Linked DNA regions of Homo sapiens. The protein of the gene in region 2 interacts with the protein of the main gene of each other region in a pairwise test. Each region holds a gene or a part of one and is shown on either strand. Other genes may lie near its edges. The genes, in order: CSTF2, FAM168B, HSF4 and KRTAP26-1.

The links.
Region 1: the proteins of FAM168B (region 2) and CSTF2 interact in binary tests that used the Homo sapiens proteins (3 or more experiments, as listed by UniProt).
Region 3: the proteins of FAM168B (region 2) and HSF4 interact in binary tests that used the Homo sapiens proteins (3 or more experiments, as listed by UniProt).
Region 4: the proteins of FAM168B (region 2) and KRTAP26-1 interact in binary tests that used the Homo sapiens proteins (3 or more experiments, as listed by UniProt).

Annotation. Positions count from the first base shown.
Region 1 is NC_000023.11:100,836,827-100,843,063, forward strand, and holds the end of CSTF2 (cleavage stimulation factor subunit 2), read left to right. Parts: intron 1-512; coding exon 513-623; intron 624-1,412; coding exon 1,413-1,535; 3' UTR 1,536-1,538; intron 1,539-3,887; 3' UTR 3,888-4,694; downstream 4,695-6,237. UniProt on the Homo sapiens protein: One of the multiple factors required for polyadenylation and 3'-end cleavage of mammalian pre-mRNAs. This subunit is directly involved in the binding to pre-mRNAs.
Region 2 is NC_000002.12:131,068,713-131,077,319, reverse strand, and holds part of FAM168B (myelin-associated neurite-outgrowth inhibitor), read left to right. Parts: intron 1-950; exon of another isoform or gene 951-5,298; intron 5,299-5,381; coding exon 5,382-5,465; intron 5,466-8,607. UniProt on the Homo sapiens protein: Inhibitor of neuronal axonal outgrowth. Acts as a negative regulator of CDC42 and STAT3 and a positive regulator of STMN2. Positive regulator of CDC27.
Region 3 is NC_000016.10:67,158,893-67,167,744, forward strand, and holds the start of HSF4 (heat shock factor protein 4), read left to right. Parts: upstream 1-5,852; 5' UTR 5,853-5,919; coding exon 5,920-6,042; intron 6,043-6,629; coding exon 6,630-6,738; intron 6,739-6,826; coding exon 6,827-6,954; intron 6,955-7,053; coding exon 7,054-7,178; intron 7,179-7,427; coding exon 7,428-7,503; intron 7,504-7,665; coding exon 7,666-7,730; intron 7,731-8,227; coding exon 8,228-8,330; intron 8,331-8,568; coding exon of another isoform or gene 8,569-8,582; coding exon 8,583-8,707; intron 8,708-8,827; coding exon 8,828-8,852. Other genes in the region: FBXL8 (F-box/LRR-repeat protein 8), read left to right, coding at 2,894-3,045, 3,956-4,928. UniProt on the Homo sapiens protein: Heat-shock transcription factor that specifically binds heat shock promoter elements (HSE).
Region 4 is NC_000021.9:30,317,551-30,324,856, reverse strand, and holds KRTAP26-1 (keratin-associated protein 26-1), read left to right. Parts: upstream 1-4,541; 5' UTR 4,542-4,821; coding exon 4,822-5,454; 3' UTR 5,455-5,733; downstream 5,734-7,306. UniProt on the Homo sapiens protein: In the hair cortex, hair keratin intermediate filaments are embedded in an interfilamentous matrix, consisting of hair keratin-associated proteins (KRTAP), which are essential for the formation of a rigid and resistant hair shaft through their extensive disulfide bond cross-linking with abundant cysteine residues of hair keratins.

The DNA.
Region 1 (6,237 bases), on a different chromosome or scaffold from region 2:
TCCCATTGCCTTTCTGCCTCTCTGACATTATGAACATCTCTGCCTCACTTGTGGGATAGGGCCCTTTGGGACAAACTACCTGTATCTGATTGAACTAGGGTAGGGGGTGGCCCTGTGAATGTAACTTCCCCAGTGGACCAGCATACATTTTCTCTAGACTCTGTTGGCTTTCATTTGTATTTCCAGTGAGCACTAGTTTCCAGGGTGTTCTCAGTTTTCACTGTGCTTATTTGGCTGAATTTTGATTAATTCAGTGGTATCCAGTTGTGCTGTGTAATATTTGTTGATGATGCTGGAGGTGTTGTAAGCAAGTATGTCGAACTTGCTAGTTGATCTCTGGCTAAACCCTGCCTTCTGCTATTGCTAACAGTAGAAAATGATCTTCAGAGTCATTGATTTGCTTTTTTTACTCATATCTGTATAGAGATCATAATTTGTCACATTATTACTGAATTCAGGTTACCTATACATTAAAAATGCCAAAAATCTCTCTTTTCTCTTTGTACACATAGGTCCCAGTCATGCAGGGAACAGGAATGCAAGGAGCAAGTATACAGGGTGGAAGCCAGCCTGGCGGCTTTAGTCCCGGGCAGAACCAAGTCACTCCACAGGATCATGAGAAGGTAAGCAACACTGTCTGACTGCCTCCTTATGCACAATTCTAGCCTTTTTGATTCCTCTTTTCACAGTTACCATGTGACGATCCTGGGTCTTCAAAGTCCCTTTGGAGGTGATGTTTATTCTAACTTAGAACTCTTTTATGATCTTGTTACCTGAAAATTTGTGAGTCTGGTCCTGAAGTTCCTAATGGATGTGAAGTTCTTAAGTGGATGTAAATGGCAGCTTATTTTATATTTCACACTCATCTGCCAATAGCAGGTTTTTCTTGTTCAGGCCAGATTGACCTGAAAATCCACACCCTTTTTCCTTCCCTTTCTACTTTATCCCTAAAAACAATAGTAGATTCCCCATGATTATATCTTTCTGTTTTTATATTTGACCATTGTGGGGAGCTTATGTCTGATGGAAAGGCTAAAATTTGTGAAAAAGAGAGACTTTCAAAACAGGATTAAAACTTGAAGGATTTCCAGGGCTCACAGATACCATCTTAGTCTCCAGGAACTTTGAGTTCATGAAGTTGTCTGTTTTGAATCGTCTAATCTTAGGTATTTTAATTTATACTTGTTCTTTTCATTGTACCTTTTCTCACCAGTTTTTTTTTATTTTTTATTTTTTTTGGAGGGGGGCTGTTGGTTTTTTTCTGTGTGAAATGTTCTTCCTTTTTCCATTTTGCTTCATATCCCACTACAGTAGCTTTTTGGACAGAAGCTGGTGGTGGGTTTTTTGTTTTGTTTTGTATTTTTTAGCTGCCATCATTAAAACTCACTACCTTTTTTTTTTCCTCTGCACAGGCTGCTTTGATTATGCAGGTTCTACAACTGACTGCAGACCAGATTGCCATGTTGCCTCCTGAGCAAAGGCAGAGTATCCTGATTTTAAAGGAACAAATACAGAAATCCACTGGAGCACCTTGATAGGTGAGCAAACTTAATCCCCATCTGAGTAGGACTAGCTCCTTGTCTATTCTGGGTATATACTTTTAACCTTAACCAACAAGATTGTTCTCTCAGCGGCCCTCAATCCACTCAGCTAGACTCTTCTTTACCCTTCAGTAGGTCAGCTCCTGTAGGGATAGAGTAAGGCTATACAATGTTTGTTCAGTTGTTGAATTGCTTATAATCTTTCCTAATGACAAAGGTAATGTATGATCAGTTTAACAAAAGTAATCATATACAGAAATGTAGAAGGTGAAAGGTAAAAAGCCCTGTTTCCTCAATCTCATTCCCCAGACAAAACCTCTAAATATAGTTTGGTGTGTATCCTTCTACAATCAATTGTATTATTTTATTCCAAACTGTCCTGTCAAAATGGAAAAATACAAAGCATTTCAATAAAATGTGTAAATATTTTGTTTCTTGTATTTATTTTATAGGGAATATTTTGATGTTGAACTATAGTAGCACATAATTTAAGGTAGTAAATGTCCGTCATCACCATCAGTTTCTATATATTTTGGAGATCGCTGTACCCTGCTACCCTTATTTTTCTTGCTCATCATTTAGGCAGAAAGAATCCAGGGGCCAAGCACAGTGGCTGAGCCCTGTAATCTCAGCTTTGGCAGGCTGAGGTGGAAGGATTACTTGAGACCAGGAGTTCAAGACCAGCCTAAGCAACATAGTGAGACCCCATCTTTACAAAAATTTTTTAAAAAATTAGCCAGGCATGGTGAGATGCGCCTATAGTTCCAGCTACTTGTGAGGCCGAGGTGGGAGGACTGGTTGAGTCCAGGAGGTCAGGGCTGCAGTAAGCCATGATTATGCCACTGCACTCTAGCCTGGGTCACAGAGTGAGACTCTGTGTCAAAAAAAAAAAAAAAAAAGGATCCAGGTAACCTGCTTCATAAATAATCATGTGACAACTTGATTACACATACATGTATCAGTGTTTCTTTTTTAAAAAAAATTTCCCCAGCATTTTGTATTTTATAAACAGTTCTTTTTTCTAAAAACAGTTTAAAATTCATGTTGCCCCACTATCAGGTAGGACAGCACAATTTAAATTTCTACTTTTTACCCCATCCATATTATAATTCCTATTCTTATGTTATATAATAGTGAACTCATTTAACTATTAATAATTACCACTCTTACAAAATATATCATTTTAATCCATACTTGTGATGTCTTTAAACATTTAAACTGCGACTATGCATCATATATGTATTTAGACCTTAAATGAATTAATGAGAAGCTATCATAGATAGAAGGCTCAGTAGACTTTTGGTACCTTAACGTTTTATTCCACAAACCCCACATATTCTTTTTTTTTAGTAAAAGTATAGACTACCTATTACATTCAGAGGAATAAATAAAAATTATTTCTTTTACTAATTTACTTAAGCCAGAGAAGGCATTCCCTACAATGTGAGAAAATTACTCCTTACTGTTTCTGGATAGTAGAGGTAGAAATGTTTCTGAAATTTCTTTCATTATAGTTTTGCTTATAGGATGTTTAATTTAAGGCCTTGCATATTAACCACAAGGCAAAGTTTTTGTCTATTTTTTTACCTTTTATTTTTAAATAATCATAGACTCAAGGAAAGTTGGAAAAATAGTACAAGGAGTCTCATGTACCCTTCACCCAGTGTAGTGCAAAACCAAGAAATTGACATTGGCACATTACTGTTAACTTGACTGCAAACTCAGTTTTCACCATTTTAAAAAAACTATCATGATTTGTGTATATGTATGTGTGGTTCTATGCAATTTTATGTGGGCAAGATTTTATTGTGTGTCTACTGGTGTTTGTGCATACCATGGCTAAAGTGTTGGGTTTTCCTCCATCCTATACCTAGCTAGTTGTGATCCATCTCTGCCATCATGGACAGGCTTCTATACTGTTGTCATTAGAGATGAATGGTTCTCAAACAAGGGCAGTTTTGCCCCCTAGGTGACATTGTCTTGAGACGTTTTTGGTCATCACAACTTTAGGGAGTATGGCATGCTACTGGCATTCAGTGGGTAGAGGCCAGAGATACTGCTAAACATCCCATAATGCACAGGATGGTCCCCCTCACCCACTTCCCAATAGCAACTAGTACTCCAGCCCAAAATGTCAGTAGTGCTGAGGTTGAGAAACCCTGCTGCAAGGGCTGATTGCTTTGAGGAGTCAGGAGGCAGGAGACAGATACTTTGCAAATCTGTCCTGGTGATTTGATTATATGCCTGTCCTCCCTCCCCTAGCCTTTTTATTTTTTTTCCTGAAGTTTTTCCGGAAGAGAGCTTTGTCTTCACTTCTAATGGCTTTGTCCTAACTTCTTCTTACAGGTTTTCAAAAATACCTGGCAAGAAATCTGGAAATTCTATAATTTTGTTGAAATATTGAAAAAAGATGACCTGCATCCTAACCCTTGAATGACTCAAATCAGTGCCAGGTGGAGGACTCCCATCACCTTCTCTCAGAACAAAATCACTTCATTTTATTGTCTTAGTTTGTATATTTTCTGTGACTTGAAATAAACTTTGAACACAATTTTAGTACACTGCAAATTGATACACATGACCTTTTTGCTTTTAAAAAGCTTAACACTAAGGGTGAAACCTTAGATGTGTTTTCTACCCTTACTGCAGTATTGTACTTTAACATATTGCCATAGTTTTGTTTTTAAGTTAACCACTTATTCTTCTTGATGATATTTGAGAATTTCTCAGAAGCAATGTTTTCTGGAACTTGGTTTTTGTTTAGTTTGCTTCCAGTAAGAATTATTATAAGGCTTTGCCCTCTGAAAATATTCTAGCACTTCGGAGTCTTCTAGGAGAAAATATCACATGCTTAGAGCTATAAAATGGTCAGAAGGCTAACAGAGCAAAGAGCCTAGCACAGCTGTGTGTTTAGTTTAGAAAAATCCAAATATCAAAATGCATTTGTTTCAATAGCAGGTCTGAACATGTATAATTCAGAGTTAAGACAAAAATTGTTTTAGCACTGGTTTGAGTGTGTCAGCAACACAAGAGACTGTTGACATTTACTTGTGTGTTCTTAAACTTATCAGTCTAGGCAGTCAACTTTGAAAGTTTAAAAAGCCACTGATTTTTCACATGCTCAAGATGAAATAAAAACAGAAATCAAATGAACAAAATACATTTCATCCTATCTTCCAGGCAGTCCCTAACCTGCAGCCCTACCCTGTAACTACGTTTATTCTGGGAACTTACAACACAGAAAACCCTAAAACTTGTACATTCTTCTCATTTTAAGTGGACCAAATGTAGAGCACAGTCAGATTGCTCATTAGGTCTGCTCCTGCCTGCTTCCTTGCGGATAGGTATGAACATAATTAGTGCCATTAGCTCTAATCTATGGGTCTTATTGCCTAGTATTTCTCTCTCTCGCCGCGCCGCCGCCTCCTCCTCTCCCCCCACCCCAACCCCATCTCTCTCGTAGTGGCATTAAGGAGGAACATGGTTTCTCTCTATCAGGCCAACCTCAAGAGGTTAAGAGTTGCCTTAATAATCAGTAAAGTTCTACTGGAACTACTTTTGAGCCAATTTATATTCTTGGAATTCTATCCCCTGGGTTAGGATTATGGTCAGGTGAATTAAAAGCCTGGCATAGGCTTAGAGAATGTAATAGCATATTGCTTACATGTCAAGCAAAAGAATGCAAAGATAATCAACTTTTTGAGTGACAATGAAATTGAGGGATTTTCTACTCATATAAACATTTATAAGAAATTTGTTGATTAAGGTATTTCATATTACAACTTTGCAAGAAAAACTTGCTCAAAGCAGGTGAGGAGCTTTCTGTGTATCCTGCTCATCCCCAGTTCAACTTGGATGTTGGCTATGCATAGGATTTATTATATTCATTACCATGAATATAATCACGAATTTATGCCTACTCCCATAAATATTCAAGCCTTGGGATATTGATTTTGGCAGCCATCATATCTTGAAGTGAGTGTGTCAATATATTTAGACATGGAGACCAAGAGTGATGCCTTTCTCATTAGGAACTCGTTGTAAGTTTCAAGATTCCAAATCAAGGTCATTGAAGATGAAGTTGTCATTTGGTCAGTAGTTGTCTAATAAGAATCATGTCTTCAAGGTTTCATTGTGCATTTTCCCAAAGCCTTATTAAACCTGAATTAGCTGAAATCCGGGTGAACAAATTGGCAACAGCAGTGGTATCCCTCCCTATGTAAACAACCATCAGTATTGTTTTACTGTTGTAATAAATGAAACATGATTAGCCACCATGAGTTCATGACCTACCTTTATTGTGCTCAGACTAGTGACAAAAAAAAACCAAAAACAGTTTTATCCCTCAAGCCGTAGAGGTTCCTAAACTATTAGAAACAACCATTTGTTCATTCGTGGTCACTTAATGGTAGAAAAAATAGATAATATAATGCTAATTCAGTACAACCATTCTTCTAATCTATAATGAGTTGAATTGTCTGGGCACAATGAAGTGTGAGGTTTCTCTCTTAAGAGCCCTGGGCTTCTCTCCTTCTAGGGATTCACTGTGACGACTAACATCCCAGAGCCAGTGTGGTCCTTGTAGGCCGAGGTTGGGTAGATGGCAGAAATAAAAAGCATTCTGATAGAGAATGAAGGCATTTTGCTTATGTTATTAGCTGAATGATTCCTTAGCGATATAGGTAGGAGTCCACAA
Region 2 (8,607 bases):
CTTTCTGGAAAAGAGATGCAGGCGGCGTTGCTCACTTCGCTTTGTAAGGAATCACTCCATAACAGTTCACAGAAGTTTGCCTTGTTCTTTTTTTTTTTTTTTTTTTTAAATGTAATAGCGTTACATACACTCCATCTTGTGGGCTTCCATAGTTGATTGAGCCAGTTTCCTTGTGATGGGCATTGGAGTTGTTTGAAGTGTGTGCTATTTTAGTAATGATTCTGTGAACAGCCCTATGTTTGTGTGACTCTGGGAATTCTCCTCAGGGTGGGTTCCTAGAGCTGGGGTTGCTGGGTCAGAGAGCAAATGCACATGTGATTGTTAGGATACTGCTGAGTTCTTATCAGCAGTGTGAGACGATTTCCCCACAGCCTGGCTAACAGAATGTGTTTTCCAGCTTCTGGATTTCTGCTAGTCGGAAGTTAGTCAGCGTAGTTGTAGTTTGCAATTCTGTGTATCTGTGTCTATTGATTTGAGTGGTGGGGGTGGGGCGGGATGTTTGTTTTTGTGGTTTTAAAAGTTACTTACGTATTAAGTGTACTAGCCCTTTGTCTAAATAATTTAGATACTTTATCTGAATTTGTCCTTTTGCTTAACTATGGTATTTTTTGCTGTTCTGAAGCTTTTACTTTTGTAAGGTGATCAGTCTTTTTTTTTTTTTTTTTTTAAGACGGAGTCTTGCTCTGTTGCCCAGGCTGGAGTGCAGTGGCGCGATCTCGGCTCACTGCAAGCTGCGCCTCCCAGGTTCACGCCATTCTCCTGCCTCAGCCTCCTGAGTAGCTGGGACTACAGGAGCCCGCCACTGCACCCGGCTAATTTTTTTTTTGTACTTTTATTAGAGATGGGGTTTCATCGTGGTCTCAATCTCCTGACCTCGTGATCCACCTGCCTCGGCCTCCCAAAGTGCTGGGATTACAGGCGTGAGCCACTGCGCCCGGCCAAGGTGATCAGTCTTGTAGAAATGATTCAGGTTTGGGATCGCTCTGGTGCCTTGATGTAGGGAGTCTGGCCTTTCCAGCCTACCATGCCAGAAGAGGGCTAGAATAGATGCTGAAGGAGACGGTCTCTGTGTCTGCTGGGGGTTGGGGTACCCAGAAAGATCAGGAATAGGAAGAAACAGTGATTCTTAACTCCATTGCTTGGAACCCTGCAGATTCACTGTCTGGAGAGAATGAGAAAAAAGAGGCTGGTGCACCCGAGACCAGCTAAAGCAGTGTTGGGGGTCCTCCCAAAGCTGCCCCTGTGGGTTTTGTGCAGTCCAGGTAGAAACCATTGGAGATAGTGAGGGGAGCCACGCTGCGGCTTGGGTCAGAGTGGTGACAGAGCAAGTGGGATGTGGCTGATGGGATGAGGCGATGGGAGCACGGAAGCAGCAGAGGCTGTCTAGGAGATTGGGAGTCTTTGATCCCCATACCAGAGACCAGGTATGTAGTGCATCTTGTTGCTGGTGGCTAGTGATGCCATCTTAAATACTATCGTGTGTGTTTGCTGTTTCATTATAGGATGTGTTAACTTCTTGTTAGAAACTGGGGGGCCGGGCGCGGTGGCTCGTGCCTGTAATCCCAGCACTTTGGGAGGCCGGGGTGGGCGGATCACGAGGTATGTAGATCGAGACCATCCTGGCTAACATGGTGAAACCCTGTCTCTACTAAAAATACAAAAAATTAGCCGGGCACGGGCCCCTGTAGTCCTAGCCACTCAGGAGGCTGAGGTAGGAGAATGGCGTGAACCCAGGAGGCGGAGCTTGCAGTAAGCCGAGATCACGCCACTGCATTCCAGCCTGGGCGACAGAGCAAGACTCCGTCTCAAAAAAAAAAAAAGAAAGAAAGTGGGGATGGGAAGGACTAAGCAAAGAAGACAGTAGTTTTTCAGGGACCGTTAAACACAATCTTCAGCAAACAAATCCAGAGCAGCCCTCTTCCCATGAGAATATATTGGTAGAGTTTTAGGGAGAGATGAGGAATTTGGAATTTCTGGAAATTATTGCAGAGGCCTACAGGATATGATCTAGGTCAGTGGTAGTTGAAACTTTTTTTTTTTTTTTAAAAGAAGGAAACCATTGGAAAAAAAAATCTTGCTGGTTCCCTGGTCTCTGAGGGCAGTTCCAGACCTTTCTTGGTCTTCCTGTGCTCACAATTGGGCTTCTGAGGAGTCTCTCAGCATCCCCAGAACTGCTGTCCTGGTCTTTCCAGTGGCCATTGTGGGTCTCTTTGAAGTTGAATCTGCCCTTGACGTCCACCACACTCTGTTCTCTGACTAATTAGAGAGGGCAAACGGGAGGGTGAGAGTCCAGGAGGGAAACCCGGAATGGCTTCTGCTGAGGTAGAGGGGGATCAGTTTGAAGTGAGGAAAGCAACTTTGAAGCAAGGATAAAGATGAGAACTGGGCACTTGGAGGGATTCTGGGGCTAGGGCTTGGTGACACTGATGCCTCCTGTTCCCACAGAAACCTGCAAGATGGCTTAGGGATGCAGGGCAATAGAGCAAGGGATCCAGGCTGAGGGGGCCGAAGGGAGGCACGTGAGGAGCTGTATTCAGAACTTTCTGTCCCACCTACAAAGATTTTCCTTTTGGCATTCCACTCAGATCCCCCCTGTTTTTACCTCAACCTTAGGGCTTCCTTGCTTTGGTTACTGTTAGCACCATGATTTGTTCCTAAGGGATCGTAACACCTTAAAAATCCCAGTCCAAGTGCTGTAAGAGACACCTTTCTCCAGGCCTCCTCAACACAGTTTCTTTTGAAGACTGCTCTTCTCTTTCAACTTTATTTACAGGTGAAGGAAGTGTGCAGTAGAGAAGTTACAGCTTCTCACAGCTAGTGGGAACAGTAATCAAGGCTAGGAAACCTGAGTCATCTTGTTGGCTGTGTGCCCCAAATAGAAAGAACGCTTTCTGGCCAGGTGCAGTGGCTCACACCTGTAATCCCAGCACTTTGGGAGGCCGAGGAGGGCGGATTATGAGGTCAGGAGATGGAGACCATCCTGGCCAACATGGTGAAACCCCGTCTCTACTAAAAATACAAACATTAGCTGGACATGGTGGCGTGTGCCCGAAATCCCAGCTACTTGGGAGGATGAGGCAGGAGAATCGCTTGAACCAGGGAGGTAGAGGTTGCAGTGAGCCGAGATCACGCCATTGCACTCCAGCCTGGCAACAGAGCGAGACTCTGTCTCAAAAAAAAAGAGAGAATACTTTCTAATACCTCAGCTGTCACAAGTGATGCCTCCTGTACTGTGAGCCAGAGGGGTCAGCCCAAAGGGAAGGGAGGCCTTATCGAAAAGGGCAGATGCCTGAGGCCCCCTCTGTTGGTTGCACCTTGGGGCCAGGATTCTGACTGTAGCACTCAATGTCTTATTTGATGTTTCTGTTTCGTTCATATTATGAATTACTAGGTCATGGTTTAGTCTTAATAAGATTCCTCATTTGTATTAATAAAGGTCAGCTTATTTGCACGTGGACTGTAGTTGGATTTTTCCCATTTCTGTGTGTATGCATTCCCAGTTAGAGCTCCTTCTGTAAGAAGACTGAAGCTTAAGTAAGACACAGCCTGGGTTTATGACTGGTGTCTTAATTTGTTTTCTGCTGCTTTAGCAGAATATCAAGCTGGATAATGAACAGAAATTTATTAGGCTCTTGGTTCTGGAGGTTAGGGAAGTCCAAGAGCATGGCGATGGCATCTCGTGAGGGCTTTTGGGCTCTATCCTCTTGTGATGGATGGTGGAAGGGCAGCGAGTGCGTCAGAGAGAAAGGGGGCTGAACTTGTCCTTTTTATCAGGAACCCACTTTCATAATAAAGCCGTCACCTATTAAATGTCCCACCTCTCAGTGCTGTTAAAATGACAAATTTTAACGTGAGCTTTGGAGAGGACATATGAAAACATATTAGCTGGTCATGCTGGAGAAGTTGGGGATCAGAACATCAAAATATGGCAAGGCGTGGTAACTCATGCCGGTAATACCCGCACTTTGGGAGGCCGAGGCAGGTGGATCACCTGAGGTCAGGAGTTCGAGACCAGCCTGGCCAGCATGGCAAAACCCCATCTCTACTAAAAATACAAAAATTAGCTGGGCGTGGTGGTGCACGCCTGTAGTCCCAGCTACTAGGGAGACTGAGGCAGGAGAAATGCTTGAACCCAGGAGGCGGAGGTTGCAGTGAGCCGAGATCTCACCACTGCACTCCAGCGTAGGCAACAGAGCAAGACTCTGTCTTAGAAAAAAAAAAGAACATCAGAATGTGAAAAAACCTGAAATGAATTTAGAAGTTTAAAACAGTTTCTTACAACAAAAAATAATAGCTTTTAAGTCAAAATATGTAATGTAGGAAATGTCGGAATTCAGTGAAAATGAGTGACCTTTACATAGGCTTAGCTGTTCACTGGTAGCAGCAAAAATAGGCCCTTGAGTCCAAGCTAGACTTGAATTCTGATTCTTCCAGACTTTGTGCAGTGAAGTCAGATGAGGGTAACAGGACCTAGCGTGTGATACCCTTAGCACTCTTACTACTCTTGCTAAGTAATTATGTGATTAGAGTTTGGAATGAAACTTCCAGAAATGTTATAATTGAGGCTTGGCGCGGTGGCTTATGCCTGTAATCCCAGCACTTCGGGAGGCTGAGGTGGGTGGATCATGAGGTCAGGAGTTCGAGACCAGCCTGGTCACCATGGTGAAACCTTGTCTCTACTAAAAATACAAAAATTAGCTGGGCGTGGTGGTAGATGCCTGTAATCCCAGCTACTCGGAAGGCTGAGGCAGGAGAATCGCTTGAAACGGAGGTTGCAGTGAGCCGAGGTCGCGCCACTGCACTCTAGCCTGGGCAACAAGAGTGAAACTCTGTCCCCCTCCAAAAAATAAATAAAAATAAAATATATAATTGTTACCTATCAAAATTCTGAGGGAAAGCCAGGCGTGGTGGCTCACACCTATAATCCCAGCACTTTGGGAGGCCGAGGCGGGTGGATCAACTGAAATCAGGAGTTCAAGACCAGCCTGGCTAACGTGATGAAACCCCGTCTCTACTAAAAATAGAAAAATTAGCCAGGTGTGGTGACACACACCTGTAATCCCAGCTCTTCGGAAGGCTGAGGCAGGAGAATCGCTTGAACCTGGGAGGCAGAGGTTGCAGTGAGCCAAGATCATGCCATTGCACTCCAGCCTGGGCGATGAAAGTGAAACTCTGTCTCAAAAGACGACAACGATAAAAAAAACAAAGTTCTGCGGGAAGAAGACAACTAGAGACATGCTGTTGGCCACACATAGTGCTCTTGGGGCTGCTTAAGTCTGTGGAGTTCTGGGGAAGAAGGTAAGAGCGATGGCTTTGCAGGAGCTCTAGTGATTGTCGCTACTTCAGTTGATGACATGAGATTGTTCTTTATTTTTCTTCAGCTGGTTTTCCCATGGGCTATGCAGCAGCAGCTCCTGCCTATTCTCCTAACATGTATCCTGGAGCGAATCCTACCTTCCAAACAGGTATGTGCTGGGTGGTAAAATGCTTTGTACGTACAGCTGGGAGAGAAAGGTGAAGGGGTGGATTTTGAGAGGGGTGGGTATAGAATTAGGACTTGGTTGAGTCGATTTCTCAAGTTCATTAAGTTAGCCTGTTGATAAGTGCAACAAAAGCTTAATTCTTACTGCACTGAAGCTTTATATACTGTGTTTCTCATGTCCTCCCACAAGGCAAATCTGTAATCACTAGGTTGTTAACTCTGCCAGAGCATCTGTTCATGAAATAGTATCACCTACTAGAAATTGAAGAATTTCTTGCCATGCCAACAGGTGGAATTTCCATGTTAATGTTTTTAGAGATAATTTTTGGTTAGACTACTTTAGCACTCTGATAATATTTTTTAAAAAAGTATTATTTTCCATGTAATGTATAGATGAATATTTTTAGATTTTGGAAATCACTGTTAATATTAAAAGTGGAATTGGTTTGGGTCTGAATCTTGAGGAGATTGGTTATTTAGTGGGATTTCCTGCTAGGAGCCTGCACTCTCTGGTGTTGGTTCCTTTTGGACTTTTTTCACCCACACGGGGCTTTGCCTTTCTGCCGCAGCAGTGGTGGTGCACACTCTGATCTGAGGCTGTGGTTTGGCCTTAATCCTGGGACTGCTGGGGCAACTTTATCCCTCAACAGTAGCTTCACACAGTTAACTTTGACAGAGGAGGAGACAACAGCAGTGTCCTTTCCCCAGATTCTTCCTGTTTTGTTAATCATAAAATTCTGCCTTTATATTCTGTCCTTACATCCATCTCTTCGTTTCCATTTCCACTTCCACTATGACCCTATATGACCACCCTTGTTCAGACCGTAGTTCACACCCTGAGAAAAACGTTCTTGACTTGGTCTTCCTGCTCCCAAGCTTTCTTTCCCCGGGTTAGTGTTCTTCCCATTTAAACCAGAGCGATGCTCCCAGATGAATTTTTCTCAGTGGTTTCCCATGACTGTGAGACACAGTTATGCCTAGAGTCTCGACTTTCAGTCCCTAGCTGTTTGCCATATTGGCCCATTTTTTCCCTTTAGAGTGGTTTTCCTTTTGTGTTTTGCCTTGAAAGAACCATCCATCTCGTAGTGTATATTAGCAGTTCATTCCTTTTTATTGTTAGGTAGTATTTTGTTGTATGGAAATAAATACTTCAGTTTGCTTATCCATTTACCATGTGATGAACATTTGGGTTATTTGCAATTTTGGGCTATTACAAATGAAAATGCTATTAATATTTATATGCAGGTTATTGTGTGAACATACACTTTGATTTCTCTTGAGTAAATAAATACAGAGGATTTGAGTGGCTGGTTATTATGGCAAGTGTATATTTAACTTTGTGAGAAACTGCCAAACTGTCTTCCAAAGTGGTGGTACCATTTTACATTCCTACCAGCAGTGTTTGTGAGTTGTCGTTCCTCCACATCCTTAACAACACTTGGTGTGGTCAGTCTTTTTAATTCTAGCCATTCTAGTGAATGTGTAGCAGTATCTTTTCATGTGCGTATTTGCCTTCTGTATGTCTTTGGTGAAGAATTTGCTTTTACTGTATGTCAGTTATTGTTTTCTTATCGTTGAGTTTTTGAGAGTTCTTATCAGATATATGCGTGTTTTCTCCCAGTCTGTGGCTTTTTCATTCTTTTAACAACGTCTTTTAAAGAGCAGGGGTTTTAAAAGTTTAGGCTGGGCGCGGTGGCTCACGTCTGTAATCCCAGCAATTTGGGAGGCTGAGGCGGGTGGATCATGAGGTCAGGAGTTCGAGACCAGCCTGGCCAACGTGGTGAAACCCCGTCTCTACTAAAAATACAAAAATTAGCTGGGCTTGGAGGCGCACTCCGGTAATCCCGGCTACTAGGGAGGCTGAGGCAGGAGAATCACTTGAACCCAGGAGACAGAGGTTGCAGTGAGCCGAGATCGTGCCATAGCATTCCAGCCTGGGCGACAGGGTGAGACTCCGTCTCAACCAAAAAAAAAAAAGTTTGATGAGGGTTAGTCGTTTTATGGATCATGCTTTTGGTACCATACTTAATAAACCTGTGTAACTTGGCTGGGCGCAGTGGCTCACGCCTGTCGTCCCAGCACTTTGGGAGGCCGGGGTGGGTGGATCATGAGGTCAGGAGATCGAGACCATCCTGGCTAACGCGGTGAAACCCCCTCTCTACTAAAAATACAAAAAATTAGCTGGTCATGGTGGCGGGCTCCTGTAGTCCCAGCTACTCCAGAGGCTGAGGCAGGAGAATGGCCAGAACCTGGAAGGCGGAGCTTGCAGTGAGCCGAGATTGCGCCACTGCACTCCAGCCTGAGCGACAGAGCAGGACTCCGTCCCCAAAAAAAAAAACAAAAGAGAAAGAAACCTGTGTAACCTAACTTCACAAAGATTTTCTTCTTTTTTCTTGTAGAAGTTTTACACTTGTAGGTTTTACATTTATGTCTGTGACCCATTTGCAGTTAATTTTTGTGTATGATGGTAGGAATGGATTGAAGTTTATATCTTTGGCATACGTATCAATGTGGCATGTGATGATCATGCCGTAGACCACCATAACGTAAGTTACTCTTCTAGGATTTTCAGAGGTAGCCCACTTTTACTCATTTCTTCATGGAGCACAAATCAGTGTGAAAATGTACTTAAAACTTTCAACTTTTTTATTTTACAAGAAGAACCTTGAGTTAATTTCAGGCTGAGAGCTGTTCTTGCCAAAAATGTGCAGCACTGCCTAGCAGAGGCAGGGTGGAGACTGAGTGCTGCTGACACCTTCCCCCCTTGGGTGCCTGTGGGGGCCACCCTGTGGAACATGGGCCACCCATCTCATTATTATTTTGAGACAGGGTCTTGCTCTGTCGCCCAGGCTGCAGTGCAGTGGTGCAATCACGCCTCACTGCAGCCTCGACTTTTCAGGCTCAAGCAATGCTCCCACCTCAGCCTCCCGAGTAGCTGGGATTACAGGTGCACACCACCACACTCGGCTAATTTTTCTATTTTTTTGTAGAGATGGGTTTCACTATGTTGTCTAGGCTGGTCGCAAACTCCTGGGCTTAAGTGATCCTCCTGCCTCAGCCTTCCAAAGTGCTGGGATTATAGCCGTGAGCTACCATGCCCAGCTTGTCACCCATCTTCTCGAACA
Region 3 (8,852 bases), on a different chromosome or scaffold from region 2:
TGGTTATGGTCCCACCCCAAGGGGTGGAAGTGGGGACCGAACAGGACCATTGTCTGCCCATCAGGTCTGTGGGGGTCGAGGGGGAGGTGGGGAGTACTGGGAACCTGGAGACTGGGGATGCTTTCTCACACTCACTAGTACTAGAAGATGGGGAAGGTGAACCAGGCTGGAGGTCGAGTTAACAGGGTAAAGAGGCCAGGGCCCTAGTTTCGCATCCGCCGACTGGCAGCTCTTCTTACGTGTTCTTTCACGGAAGCCCCTCCTTGGGAAGCCCCGCGCCCCACCCACCAGGAGTCGTCCCTTTTTGGGCGGGGCTGAGGCTTCCAGGCTGGGTCCTGAGAAAGTTTGGTGGCCGGAGACTGTGGGGCGCTTAGGTACCGACCTAACAACTTCTGCGCCTGTTTCCAGGGACGAGCCACGCACGGTGCCCCCTGAACACCTAACAGTCCCGGGGGCAGCCCCACCTCTGGCTGGGTGGACAGAGACAGCCTGTGGGCGTGGCCCAGAACTGAAAGCCTGTGACTCCTTGCGACCCGCCGGGCACACCCCCTACTCAGCTACGCAGCTCCCGAGCGCTTGAGGGGAGCTTCCCAGGCTCCCACTAGCCCACCCTCAAGCTGGGGTTTCGCACGTGCGATCGGCTGGGGTGGGCAAGGGGGTCTCCGCTCAAGGAAAGTATTCAGAACCAGCCCCTTCTCCCCCACCCTCTCTCCTGCAGGGCCCTACTGCACCTCGAAAGTGCTGGCAGGGACGAGGAGCCTGCGGGGGCCAAATTCCGTACCGTCCCCCGCCTCCCACGGTGTTCGAACAGCTCAGTAGACCGCCGCCACCAGCTGGCTGGAGCAGCCGCCGGTGACATCTGCGCCGCGCCCACGCTTCGGAGCCAAGATCCACCTCCTCTCCCGCCCGCACCGGGGAGCCCACCCACCCACCTGCTGCACTAACCTGGCCGCCTCGGCGGGGCCTGGGTTCCCACGCCCGCCAGGCTCCGCTCTACTCCGCCGCTTCCGGGTGTGCGCGGAGGCGCTGGGGCGGTGCCCTAGCCCGAGCCGCCCCGTCCGCCCGCGCGTCCCGCCCCGCGGGCTCCCGGTGGCTGCTTCCCGTCCGCTGTCCTCTGCTGCCAGTCCCCTGCCCCGGGCAAAGCCCATCTGGTCCGCCGAGCAGGTAAGACACCAGCGCCCAAGGTTAGACGGCAGGAAGACCCGACTTTGGGGGTTTGCGATTCTTACGAGGCGGGGGGCTCGTAAGAGCTACAGCTGCCAGACTTCGGTAAATCAAGGGGGCGCCCCCTGGAGACCAGAATTTTCTGGTACCCCTGGGGATCCGGCTTCAAGATCGCTGCTACCAGTGGGCACTCAAAACGGGGTGCCCATGGGTCCCAGGTACAAGCCCGGCCGAACGTATCTGAAGCCCCAGGAAACACGTGGCACAAATTCCGGGAGAAACTGTTAGCCCGGAAGATATGGGAACATTAACTGGCGAGTAGTGTGAAGCCTTGTGTACACAAACCTTTAAGAACCTTAAAACAAGATTGGCGGCCGGGCGCGGTGGCTCACGCCTGTAATCCCAGCACTTTGGAAGGCCGAGGCAGGTGGATCACCTGAGGTCAGGAGTTTGAGACCAGCCTGGCCAATATGGTGAAACCCCGTCTCTACTAAAAATACAAAAATTAGCCCGGCGAGGTGGCGCGCGCCTGGAGTCCCAGCTACTCGGGAGGCTGAGGCAGAAGAATCGCTTGAACCCGCGAGGCGGAGTTTGCAGTGAGCCGAGATCTCGCCACTGCACTCCAGCCTGGGCGACACAGCTAGATTCCGTCTCAAAACAAAACAAAACAAAAACAAACAGGATTGGCAACTTCAAAGAGGACGCACACTTTCCAGTAACCCATCCCCCTCTAAAGGCTGCGCTCCAGGGTGGGTCTGCGGAGTTCCAGCCGAACCCAAATTGCTCAGCGGGAGCCAGGGCTGCTCAGGGGTCGGAACTTAAATCTTGAGCCCCTCAGGCCCCAGAACCGTCAGGTCCCAGAGACCCAAGTTTTTTTTCATCCAGTGGGGCTGTCTTAGGAAGCACCCGGGACATCTCCCCGGCGAGGCGGAGGCGGGGAAGGAGCCTCCCCTCCAGGGGTGGATCCAGCTTTGCCCCGCCCACGCCTCGCTTCCTGATTGGCTCATGGTCCCTGACAAAGAAAAGCCTACATTAACGCTCCCGCCTTATTAACCCTGTAGTCACTTTCTACTAACCGGCGGGGTTAAGATGGGGTTTCTCAGGCCGGGCGCGGTGGCTCATGCCCGTAATCCCAGCACTTTGGGAGGCCCAGGCGGGCCGATCGCTTGAGCCTAGGAGTTCGAGGTCAGTCTGGGCAACAAAGCGAGACCTCGTCTCTGCAACAAAATTACAAAAATTAGCCAGGCGTGGTGGCGTGCCCCTGTAGTCCCAGCTACTCGGGAGGCTGAGGTGGGAGGATTGCTTGAGCCCGGGAGACTGAGGGTGCAGTGAGTTGTGATTGCGCCACTGCACTCCAGCCTGGGTAAAGAGCGAGACCCTGTCTCAAAAAAAAAGAAAAAAAAAAAAAAAAGTGGGAGGGGAGTTCTCAACGTGGAACCTGTGGAGTCACAGGGGCTTGTTGAAATGCAGATTCCTGGGCCTTACCCTTTCCGGAGAGCCTGATTTAGTAGGTGAGGCGGTGAAATCTGCTTTGTGAACAAGTTTCGGGGTTATCTGATGCCCCACGCTGTCTGAGAGGCCCTCAGTTCCTCAGGCCACAAGCATTTGTACACCTAAGCTCGGTCTTCCTGCAACACTTTGCGCCTTCCCGACCTCAGAGACGTCCGTCTCTCTCCAGGCCGGAGCTATTGGGAGTGGCGGATCCTCCCACCCCAGCCGGATCTGGGCCATGGCCGAGCCTGGAGAGGGACTGCCAGAGGAGGTGCTGGCACTCATCTTCCGCCACCTGTCCCTGAGAGACCGTGCTGCCGCCGCCAGGGTCTGCAGGGCCTGGGCCGCCGCTGCTACCTGCAGCGCCGTGTGGCACGACACAAAAATCAGGTGAGCCTGCTCCTCCACACTCCTCTCCCCACCGCCCACTCACCTTCTCCGTGGAGTCGTGGGCTAGGTAGATATTCAGGTTGACTCCCCCATATTAAAAAATAATTGCTGGCCGGGCGTGGTGGCTCATGCCTGTAATCCCAGCACTTTGGCAGGCCGAGGCGGGTGGATCACCTGAGGTCAGGAGTTTGAGACCAGCCTGGCCACCATGCTGAAACCCCGTCTCTACTAAAATACAAAAACTAGCCGGGCATGGTGGTGGGCGCCTATAATTCTAGCTACTCGGGAGGCTGAGGCACAAGAATCGCTTGAACCCGGGAGGCAAAGGTTGCAGTGAGCCGAGATGGCACCACTGCACTCCAGCTTGGCGACAGAGTAACAGTTTATCTCAAAATAATAATAATAATTGCTGACGTATTGACTGCCTAGTATATACCAACCATTGTTTTTAAGTGCCTTACATATATTAACTAATTTAATCCTTATGAAAACCTTGTGTGGTAGATAGGTATTATCATTACCTCCATTGCCCAGATAGGAAACTGAGGCAAAGAGACTTAATCACTTCCCACGGGTCACTCAGCTAGGGAATGGCAGAGGCAGAATTCGAACCTAGCAGTCCGGAGGCCATGCCAAGACTCCTTAGAGACAGCTGAGAAAGCCCAGTTCCTAAAATATCATTGGCTCTCCATGTCCAGGTTTCATCCTGTGGCAGACGCCACTGAAATCTTCTAAAAGGATAGGATGCGAGTTCCCTCCTTTGGGGCAACAGTCGTGGTCTGAACAGAGACGTGGGGAGGGAGGCAGGAAATGGGATGGCAGCTGGAACCCCAGCTAAGGGGTGGGTAGAGGCTTCTCCGCTGGTCGCAGGGACTCAGCTGAGGCCTTTTCTGCACGGCTCTAACCCAAGTTGCGAATGTGAGCTGGAAGGCATGCTGCCACCTTATCTGTCCGCCTGCCTCGACCACATTCACAACCTACGGCTGGAATTTGAGCCATCGAGGAAGCCGAGCCGCCGGGCGGCCATCGAGCTGCTGATGGTTCTGGCGGGCCGTGCCCCGGGGCTGCGAGGCCTGCGCCTGGAGTGCCGCGGAGAAAAACCGCTCTTCGACGCGGGCCGCGACGTCCTGGAGGCTGTGCACGCTGTATGCGGGGCGGCCAGCCAGCTACGCCACCTCGACCTGCGGCGCTTGTCCTTCACACTGGACGACGCGCTGGTGCTGCAGGCGGCGCGCAGCTGTCCCGAGCTCCACAGCCTTTTTCTGGACAACAGTACCCTAGTGGGCAGCGTGGGTCCCGGCTCAGTGCTCGAGCTACTGGAGGCCTGCCCGCGCCTGCGCGCTCTCGGCCTGCACCTAGCCAGTTTGTCGCACGCCATCCTCGAAGCACTGGCGGCGCCAGACCGAGCGCCTTTCGCGCTCTTGGCTCTGCGGTGCGCGTGCCCCGAAGATGCACGCGCGTCCCCGCTGCCCAACGAAGCCTGGGTCGCGTTGCGCCGCCGCCACCCTGGGCTGGCAGTGGAGCTGGAGCTGGAGCCCGCGCTGCCCGCTGAGAGCGTGACGCGCGTCCTGCAGCCAGCCGTCCCCGTGGCTGCGCTGCGCCTCAACCTCTCAGGCGACACCGTAGGCCCAGTGCGCTTCGCAGCACACCACTACGCCGCAACCCTGTGCGCGCTCGAGGTGCGCGCAGCCGCTTCGGCCGAGCTGAACGCCGCGCTGGAGGAGCTGGCGGCGCGCTGCGCGGCCCTGCGCGAGGTGCATTGTTTCTGCGTGGTGAGCCACTCGGTGCTGGACGCCTTCCGCGCGCACTGCCCGCGCCTGCGCACCTATACCCTCAAGCTCACGCGCGAGCCGCATCCCTGGAGGCCTACGCTCGTGGCGTGATTGGGCGACTTCTCTCCCCCGTCCCCGTGGACGTAAGCGCTCTGAGAGGGAACGGGGGGGGTGTCCAGGCGCGCCCCGAGTGCTAGTGCCTTCTTTTGGGATTGTTGCCCCCCGGGTCTTTACCGAGTTGGGAACTGTGATGGCATCGGGACCAGTCCTGGGCGCCCTGAGACCACTCGCTGCTCTCACCCTCTGCAGACGCCCCACCCGCTCGGTCCTGGACACACTGCCCCCCTCTCTTGCCTCCACCCCTCTGCGGACTCTGCAGCTCCGCGGCCCCGGCGCAGGGAGAGGGAGGGCACGGGCGCGGGCCGGGCCTCAAGGGTGAGTGTGAAATAAACAAATCCTGCAGTGTTTCTGCGTCCTATTAAAGGCGGGGTCGGATCTGAAAGGGAAGGACAGGGAACGCGCGGGGTACCGGAGGAGCCATCCCGGCAGAGGTTGGGTTTCCTCAAGAGCCTCTGGACGACACAGCTGCGGGGGGTCAGGGTCGGGGCACTCACACCCTTGGAATGACTACGTCCCGGGGTTCGGCGGGAGGGGGCGTGCTTCCCTGCCCCCCCTTCCTATCTGCTTGCCCTGCCTGGGGCTTCACTGTGCCTCTGGCCATTACCTTCTAGGACTTGCCCAGCCCACACCAGGTCGCGCACCGGCGATTTCTCCTGTAGAACAAAGAAGGAAATAGAGGGACCGAGAGGGGTGGGACTCGAACCCAAGTCTCCCACTCATCTCACCCCACCCCACCCCACTCCACCCCACCCCACCCCTCCACTCCACTCCACTCCACACATCCCATCCAGCCAGCCTTTTCTGCCTGCTGGTGCCTCGGCCGCTGTCCGAGCCCCGCCCCGCGGGCTTGCACGTGGCCCCCGCCTGACCCGGCGCCCCGGGGCGGAGTAGGGCGGAGCGGGCGGCAAACGCAGCACTTTCCGCGGCTTTGACGAGCCCGCAGCGGCCGGGCCCGAGCGCAGAGCCGGGCCGAGACTGCACCATGCAGGAAGCGCCAGCTGCGCTGCCCACGGAGCCAGGCCCCAGCCCCGTGCCTGCCTTCCTCGGCAAGCTATGGGCGCTGGTGGGGGACCCAGGCACAGACCACCTGATCCGCTGGAGCCCGGTGAGGGCCGGGGCCCCTCGATTCCCCCTGTGGTCCCGGGGTCCCTCCACGTCAGTGAACACCCATGCCCGCCCAACCCCCTCCTGAGACTGGGCCGTGGATCCCCGGATTTGGCCATTCAGAGAAGTTCACCTTGGAGGGGGTGTGCGAGAGGGGGGTTTCCTCTGCGGCCGAAGAAGGGTTAGGAGCCTGCCTTCTGAAGACCTAGAGTCCGAGGGACCTTCGAGGCCATTTAGTTCCCACCCTACCCCATCCGACAGATGGGAAAACAGAGGCCGGGAGATGGGAAGGGCTGGTCTAGCTCAGGGTCACATTGCGGGGCTGGGAACCCCGTCAGCCTCTCCTTTCTGAGAACTGAGTATGGAGTCAGGGTCTGGCTGGGGGTAGGGACTCACTGTGGTCGCTCCAGGCTAGGCCTCGGAGCCCGTTCTGGCCTGGCCTCGACCCATATCCCCGTAAGCGGCAGGCCTGGACCCAAGAGTGAGCATGAGTGTGTGCGCGCGCTGGAGCGCAGGACTGGCCGTGAGCGGGCACCGCTCACCCTCCTGGTCTCCGCCCGCACGGTGGGCGGGCGGCGTTCTTGGTAGAGCGGGACCAGTTTCCTCGTAAGCGACCAGAGCCGTTTCGCCAAGGAAGTGCTGCCCCAGTATTTCAAGCATAGCAACATGGCGAGCTTCGTGCGCCAACTCAACATGTGTGAGTCCCTACGGCCGGGCGGGGAGCGGGGATGGGGGACTCGGTGCCGGGGATGGGGCGACCCACGCCCCCACGCCCCACTCCCCAGACGGTTTTCGGAAGGTGGTGAGCATCGAGCAGGGCGGCCTGCTTAGGCCGGAGCGCGACCACGTCGAGTTCCAGCACCCGAGCTTCGTGCGCGGCCGCGAGCAGCTACTGGAGCGCGTGCGGCGCAAGGTGGGGGCGGCCTGCGGGAATGAGCAAAGAGGAGGAGGGGTGCTGGGACTGCCTGCCTTGCTCCTGCGACCCAGTCCCGACGGTGCCTCCCGCCTGCAGGTGCCCGCGCTGCGCGGCGACGACGGCCGCTGGCGCCCGGAGGACCTGGGTCGACTACTGGGCGAGGTGCAGGCTTTGCGGGGAGTGCAGGAGAGCACCGAGGCGCGGCTGCGGGAGCTCAGGCAGTGCGGGGGCGGGCGGGGAAAGAGGGGACAGGGGTGGGGGGTTCGGGATGAGACCATAACTGGCCGGCCAGCAGTTCTGGGCAGCCCCTTCCTCTCTCCTGCCTTGGCGCCTCCATCTAGACTTATGGGCGATCTCTGGGATGGCCAGTCAGCGGGGTGGTCTCCTGGGTCCCCAGCCTCGCCATTCTGTGGGGGGTGGTGACTGGGCGAACTCTCAGATGCCTCAGCACCCTCCCACCCCTTCCTCAGGCAGAACGAGATCTTGTGGCGGGAGGTGGTGACACTTCGGCAGAGCCACGGTCAGCAGCACCGGGTCATTGGCAAGGTGTTCCTCTCCCCAAGCCTCGCTTCTCCCTCCCACTCCTCGACACCCCATTCCACCGCCCAGTCCCCCGGCGCCCCTGTTAAGCCTTCCTCCCTCACCTGGAAGTGCGGGGGTGGGGGGGCTGTGTCCAAAGTATGAATTAAACCTTTGCTTTCTCTTCAGCTGATCCAGTGTCTCTTTGGGCCACTTCAGGCGGGGCCGAGCAATGCAGGAGGCAAGAGAAAGCTGTGAGTGAGAAAGCCAAGAAGGCCCACACCCACTTCCAAGACCCCCCAGAAGTCCCCTTGCAAGGACCCCTTCTCCTCTGGAAACTCCTTCACCGGGAATCCTCATTCCTCCCCCTGCGCTACAGGCTTCCTCACCCCATCTAGGATCCACTTCCCCCCAACTCTGCCACCTGGTATCCCCACTCCCAGATCCTCCCATTCCAGGACCTTATTCCCAAATTCCTACCCCAGCAGCCCCTTCCCCCTCCGGCAAGGCTTCCCAACAGCTGAGACCCTGGGGCTCAAACCAGGTTCCCTCCCTCCCCTCTCTACCCACAAAGGGCCCCCATCTCTAGGGGGAGCCCCTTCCACCTCCAGCATGTGACTGACACCCTAGCAACAGGCCTCAGCTCTGCTGACTTGGCTGCTGGGGCCTGAGGGAGGGAGGGAAGTGCAGGCCGAGGTGCATGGGGGCTGACCCTGCCCCACCCCTGCCTGTGCCCTGATCGACCACACAGGTCCCTGATGCTGGATGAGGGGAGCTCATGCCCAACACCTGCCAAGTTCAACACCTGCCCTCTACCTGGTGCCCTTCTGCAGGACCCCTACTTCATCCAGTCGGTAGGTTTGTCTTCTTCCCCCTTCCCAAGGGCATGGCTGGGCTTATGGAGAGCCTGTTCCTTCTCCCCATCCCCTAAAAGGAAGAGAAGATGGAAGCCAGCCTTCCCCCCAACCAGACCCAGGCCCTCCAGCATGGACTGAGCCTCCTCCCTCAAACCTTCTCCCTTAGACCTGGCCCAGGTGGGTGTTGGTGGGGTTCTGGCTCTCCCTGTGCCTACAGGCCAAGGGCTGGGCCTAGCCTTCTACTTACAGCCTCTCCCAGAGACAAATTTGGGCCTTAGCCCTCACAGGGCCAGGGGCCCCATCATCTCTGACATCCCAGAAGACTCTCCATCCCCTGAGGGGACCAGGCTTTCTCCCTCCAGTGATGGCAGGAGGTAAGGGGGACAGGGCTGCCCCTGAGGGGCCTGTGGGGGAGGGCCTGGCAGCCCAGATGGCTGTAGGGGTAGAGGGAGAAGTCAGTGCCAGGGTCTGGTTGAAGCTTTTCTCTGGTGCAGGGAGAAGGGCCTGGCACTGCTCAAA
Region 4 (7,306 bases), on a different chromosome or scaffold from region 2:
TACAAAACATTTCATCCAACAGGAGAAGAATACACATTCTTTTCTAGCACACACTAAATATTATCCAGGATAGATTATGGGTTAGCCCCCAAAAAAGTCTTAGGGAAATTAAAATCATATTAAACATCCAACCATAATGATATTAAACCACCAAACTAGAAATCAGTAACAAGAGGAAAATTGAAAAATTCACAAATATGTGAAAATTAAACAACACACTACTGAACAACCAATAAATCAAAGAAAAAATCAAAAGAGAAATTAAAAAATATTGAGACAATGAAAATGGAAGCACAACATTCCAAAACTTTGGAATGCATCGAAAACCATTTTAAGATGTTTACAGCAAAAAATACCTACCTGAAAAAAGAAAGATTTCAAACAACTTAACTTCTCAAGAAGTTAGAGAAAGAATAACAAACTAAGCCCAAAGTCAGCAGAAGAAAAAAAAATAGAGCAGAAAAAAGTCAAATAGAAAATTTTTTATAAAATTAGGAAGATTTGTAGAAGTAAGGCTTGTTGTTTTTTAAACATTTCCAAATTTATTTTACAAAACCAGCATTACCCTGATACTAGTGTTGGTCAAGGATAATAAAAGATAAAACAGAAATGAAAACATAAACTGGAAGCCAATATGCCTGATTAAGATAGATGCAAAAGTCCTCAACAAAATACTAGTAAGCAGGATTCAATGGCACATTCAAAGGATGATACAACATGATTAAGTGAATTTTATTCCTGGGAGGCTAGGATGATTCAACACATGCATATCAATGAATGTGATACACCAAATTAGCAGAAAGAAGGATAAAAGTTATCATCCCTATGGATGTAGAAAAAGCATTTGACAGAATTCAACAAACTTTCACGATAAAGACTTTAACAAATTAGGCACAGAAGGAATATACTTCAACATAACAAAGTCCATATATGACAGACTCACAGGTGAAACACACAATGGTGAAAACCTAAAAGCTTTTCTCCCTAGATCAGGAACAAGACAAGGATGCCCACTCTTTCTACTTCTATTCAATATAGTACTAGAAGTCCTAGCCAGAGCAATTAGTCAGAAAAAAAAAAAAAAAGAAAATCACCCAAATCATAACGAAGTAAAATTGTCTCTGTTTGCATGTGACACGATTCTATACATTAGAAACCCTAAAGACTCCACCAAAAAACTATTAGAACTAGTAAATATTAACAGGCAACCCAAAAAAGTAGGAGAGAATCTTTACTGGGAAGTAGAGAAGGGCCAGACAAGTGTCAGAACAATTCTCTGTTGACAAAGAGAAATCATCCACTTTTTTGAGAAAGAGAATCATATGATGAAATTAATTTCATGAGTATTATTTCAAATGCATTATTTAGGCAAAATAGAAGACCATAGGGACAGAAGTCAAAGGTGGCAGTAGGAAATTCACTGAAGGAGAACAAAAAAGCCCAACTTAAATCATTGCCATGATAACAGAAAGAAAAAAATGGAAAGAAATATATAATTTTAGAAGATAAAGGGAGAAAAGCATAACAGGTTTTCCCACTTTCCAATCTATGCTGCAAATTAACCTCAGCACTCTCTTCTTGAAACACATTACTGGATCACCACACCTTTAGAACAATATCTTAACTACTTCCCCCAGTAATTTCAACATGTGAATATGAGTTTGCTTCTTAGAATCCTTCACTGGGAAGCTCTATGTTGTCATTTTCTCTACCTTGACATCTTCTTCCATAGCCTAAAGTGTTTTCCTCTTCTCCAAAGCCCCTTCCATCTTTCAAAATTAATATCAAATGTTAAATTTTTGGTAAGGTGAATGAACTATGTTTGCTCTTCTCTGTACATTACTTACGGAACTTAGTAAACACTGACATGGGTTATGTACCTGTCTTATCACGCTTACCAGATAGTGTACATCTGAGAGCAGAAACCAATTTTATGTTGGTTCCATTGCCAGCATCTATCATAATGTTTTGCACATACTACATGCTCAATAATATTTGCTGAATGGATGAGTTAAAAGTACCTTGTTTATTGGCACAACTTTATTGTTGAAATGTTCTGGGGATTTTTTGTCTCCAAGACAGAGAAACTCAGAATTCTCCTTCTACAGTAGGAGAGACAAAGATCCATGGTTTATTAAAAAAAAAAAAAAAAAAAAAAAAAAAGCAACGCCATGGGTAAATCTGGGAAATCACACAGGATGCCCAGTTCCTCCGATTATCCCTGGGCTCTTAACTCAGAAGAGAAGTCTGAAACATGTAGTTTATAGGATCCTGCTAATGAGGTACCTGGTATTATGCCCAAATAAGCAATTCTCTATTAGTGACACAGCCACTATGAAATAATTTTAGTTCAACCTATATTACATGAAGGACAACTTATATTCAGGGTACTTCACTTTCTGAAGATCTGTTGATATTTTTGCAATTTTACCCCCCCACCGCCCCCCCCCCCCCACACACACACGAGAAACTCATGGTGGTGCTCTAAAGAAATTAAACCCAAGGTCGTACTCTCCAGAATGGGTTAAGAACGCCAAAGCAAGAAAATAGATTACTCTTGTATAACGTTTTACAGTTTATTTTAACTTTTAATGACATCTCAATATATTCCTGAAATGTCACTGAAAAGTAGATACTATTAATATTTCCATAAAATTATACTGATAGTGACTGGGGAGCAGAGCAATTATGCAAATTACCCAATTCACACGGTTATTGGTTATTAAATGATAGTATCAATGCATCTCTATGTAATGCCATATTGGATAGAGAAAAACTGTTTGGGGAGTCAAGGAGCCTTTTTTCAGATGTTTTTCGTAATACCTATTACTGCAACTTTCTAAAGCTCAAGTTTTCTCGTATGAGTACTTGAAATAGTAAGATCTACTGTATAGAATTGTGAGGACAAAGTGAATGGCACATGTGGGCACCCACAGCACAAGGTTCTTCAGAGTAGGCATTCCATGAATGCCAGTTTCCTCTTATTCCACACCCCTTCTCTTCATGGAAAACCATCCATGTATACATAGAACATGTAGTATATACATCTATCCACACATACACACAAGCGTATTGATGTACTAATGATACAGATGTTGGGCTCTTGTTTATATTAGAGAAGAGCAGACATAAAAAGGATCAACATACAATTTCATAAGCATTCAGCTAAATATGACTGTACCTATTACTAACGCCATTCAGCTGATGCAACCAGGATTTTACAAGAAGACTCTAGCAGCTGTATACACAGAGTATTAGGTGATGTCCGAAGTATACAAAGTATCCGGTTATACAAACAGTATTAGGTGATGAGGGCCTGGGGTTGGGGGTTGGAGTGAGTGGGGCTTTCTCAAATACATCAGGTACAAATCGTCTGACCTAAAATACTGAGATAAATTCAACATGTTAGTACAGGACCTCCGGGATTATACCATTTTATTTTTATATTTCTCCCCCAGTAGTAAAATAGTCTAGTGTTGTCTCATTGAGAAACCAACTTTCTGTTTCAGAGATTTCACTCCTCCAGGACAGAGGGAGACTGGATAAGCACAAGTATGTCCCTCAAACACCAAAATAGAAGAAAGTGTTATGATTTAAATTGACTAGCCAAAAGGAATTGGAACTTAGAGCCAGCAGATAATTTAAAATCCCATTAAAATAGCTACTGGAGCCACTGGGTATGTCAGTATGAGAAAAATATAGAGGGATAGTTGAAACTAACTAAAATCATACATTTTTTAAAACAATTTTACCAGAAATACATATTCTCAAATGACCTTTAAAGTACTAAAACTTAGGAAAACAATAATTTATCCTGATGCTTTTCCCTATGTAAAGCAGTTTAGAAGCTCCTTTTTGGAAATTGACATCAAGGCCAATGTAGAAAGCAAAATAAATTCATGTCATAATCAGTGTATTTTTTAACCAAGAACAATATTTTTTCAGTTGGAATATGAGAAACCATGCAATACATAACCTTGAAATAATCATGAAAAATGTCAAGATGCCTGACTTTCTTTAAGAGGTCTACTTCTCTGCTTTTGTTCACAGTAGGATACATAATTTTAACTTGGCCCAACTTCATTATCTATATTCAAGAATATCTTAAACATAAGCCAAGGTTTCAGCTTCACTCAGCTTATTTATTTATTGAAATGACTAAAATGAGCACATATTTTTGAATAAAGATATTTTGGTAGAAAGTCAAGTCTGAATAGAATTCTGAAATAAAGCAAATCACAACTTAGAAAAATAAATTCTAACCAAGCAAAACATATTGAAATTGTCCATATTTCTGTCATATAGTTTGCAAGGATTTTCATTTTCTCTTATACTTGTTCCAAGTTACTCACTTCTGGCAATTTCCAAGAAGAATAGAATTTTTCTTCAAAAAGATGTAAGTTCTCACTGTTTCAAAGAAGTTGCTACAACTTTCAAAGACAATTCTAAGAGAGGAATCTTAAGAATGTTTGTGCAATGGTGGTTATAATTGGAATAAGCACATAGGCTTTAAAATGTGTCTGTTTTGTTTGGATAATTTAAGAAGGATAGATCCTATTAAAACTCAGTCGCATTGGTTTATAGATAGACGTAATCAATGGATGGCATTGCAAGGAGCATCCAGTTTTATGGAGGGTGGAAGCCTCACTTCCTTGGCTATAATAAAGAGTTCTGATGCATCTTCATACAACAAGAGGAAGAGTCTGCACGCAGAAGCACCACCTTCTAGGGATAAATAAAGGGTCAAGCTAAGGAAGGGCAGAACAAACTTCAGACACTCACTTCTTTGCCTCAACTTCAGCCTGCTCTCACAACCTCACTATGTCTTGCCCCAACTACTGCTCGGGAAACTCCAACTCAGGATCTCTCAGAACCTCCCGCCATATTCCTCTCACCTCCATCGACCTCTGCCCTACCAGCGTGAGCTGTGGAGATGTCCTCTACTTACCCACTAGCTCTCAAGACCATACCTGGGTCACAGACAACTGCCAAGAGACCTGCGGTGAACCAACCAGCTGCCAGCCGGTCCACTGTGAGACCGGCAATCTTGAAACCTCTTGCGGTTCTTCCACTGCTTACTACGTGCCCAGGCCTTGCCAAGGAAGCAGTTTTCTTCCTGCTTCTTTCTTCTCCAGTTCCTGCCTTCCAGTATCCTGTAGACCACAGAGGTATGTGTCCAGCGGCTGTCGTCCACTGAGGCCGCTGCTCAATAGTTACCAGCCCATAGGAGACTGTGTGCCCAATGCCTATCGCCCCCAATTCTGCTTGTCCAAGAGTTGCCAGCCCCAAAACCTCCTCACTTCTGGATGCCAACCCTCGAGTTGCTTGGCCTATCGTCCTCAAAGTCTTCACGTTGTGTCCAGCAGCCTCAGACCTCTGGGGCCTCTGTTCAGTGGTTGCCAACCTCTGACCCATGTGTTCAGCACGTGTCGTCCATCTTGCTCTGGACTGTGAAACCAGCAGCTTCTTTGTTCCAGTGAATAATCACTCTGAGCATCCACAACAAAAATTCAAACTCCATGGACTTTTGCTTCTTTGCTAGTAGCAACTGATGTTTCTTAGTTTTACTGTGCCTGATCTAATGCAAGCTGCTTCTCTCGCATGTTTTATCTTGTTTTCATCTTTCCTTGACATCAAAAAAATTAGTTTACAATGCTATTCAATGTTGCTCTGGTCTGGGAAGAATGTATTTGTTTTGCACTATAATAAATGCGATTAAGTCCAAATTAAGAATCTGGTTCAGCGCTTTGTGTTTCATGACTTAATTTCAACACAGAAATAACCAACGTCAATTGCTTGCAAGATGACTGAGCTGGACAAGTGATACTCAACCATATATTCTTACCTGACAGTAGAGGGATTGTTTGATGGTTTATTCCTTAAGCTGCTTTTTAGACTTCTGACCCTATGTACTTGAGAGACCCAAAAAGTCCTTGGGAAAGCTGTTTTGAAAAGGAAAAATTAGGAGTGATGTCTCTTATCTCTCTACCCCATGAACACACTTCCACCAGAATGTTCTTTCTAATTGCAAACCTAACCAAGTTTCTGCTTACGCCTTTGATGGCTTCCTATAATCTATTCCCATAAGATAAATATTCAAACCTCTTAGCATGACACCTAGTTCCCTCACTGTCTTTCTCCCCCATACCTCTCTGGCTTCATGCTCTTTTGCTCAATATTGCAAATAATAAAACTAAGCTCCTGCGATCCTGACTTACACATGGGTCCCCAAACATATGCTTTTTACAGTCATCCATCCTTTTGCATAGGTCATCATCGAGAGCGGTATGTTCTTCAGCTCTGTTTTGAAAACTCATACTTGCTTTTACAAAAACACAGTCTTGAGTTCATTAATTAATCTTTTGATTTATTCAGAAACAAAGGTACTGCTTGCATACTATATGCCAGGCACAAAAGATACTGAGGTGAACAAAACAGTCCTGAACTATCACAGAATTTGCCAGAAGTTATAAGCTATGGGACATGTAACAATTAAAGATACATTTTTTCTCTCACTCAACCTAAAATGTGTGGGGGCATATATTTCATTAATTAAAAGGAAATAAAGTTTTAAAAGCCTGAATATTTACCTTTTTGAGGAACTGGAATAGCTAGAAAAGCTAGAAACTGTATCACTGTGCAAGAAAGTGATTGGCAGGCAGCTCGCAGTAACTCCCAGCTGTTCCCTTTAGACAGGGCACACACTTCTGGTTCTCAGTTCAATCTTGCCCTAGAGACTTCCTGACAATGAAGCAGAATGCCAGTTCCACTTACTATCATGATCATGCCACTGTTGTTAATTTCATTCTGGTTCATTATTTGCCTTATTTGCTTGCTCTCCTGGATATTTTGATTTTGTGACATCTGTATCCCCTATTTTTTGAAGCCTTTCCCCGGCCCTCTCTGTGCCTCTTACCCTAATCACACATTGGCTCAGCCTGAATTTTATCTCAGCCATATGTCTACTGTTAATCTTGTTGAACTGTTATTTTTAACATCATTTTAAATGAGATTTTAGTTAACATATAACATACATAACTAATTTTTGCATGTTCTTGAACTGTAAAATGAAATTATAAAGTATTTACCCATTGGTGTCTGTCTTCTTGTACTAAATATTATGTGTGATTTTTCCATATTGTTATATGTACCAGTAGTCTTTTAATTTTTTGTGTACATAATATTCAAGGTTAAAACACCAAAATATATTTATACATTCTTTTGTTGATGAGCCTTTGGGTTGTTTCTAGTTTGGATCTATTAGAATTAGTGTACAGAATATTCTTGTATTCTTCGGCTATATTTT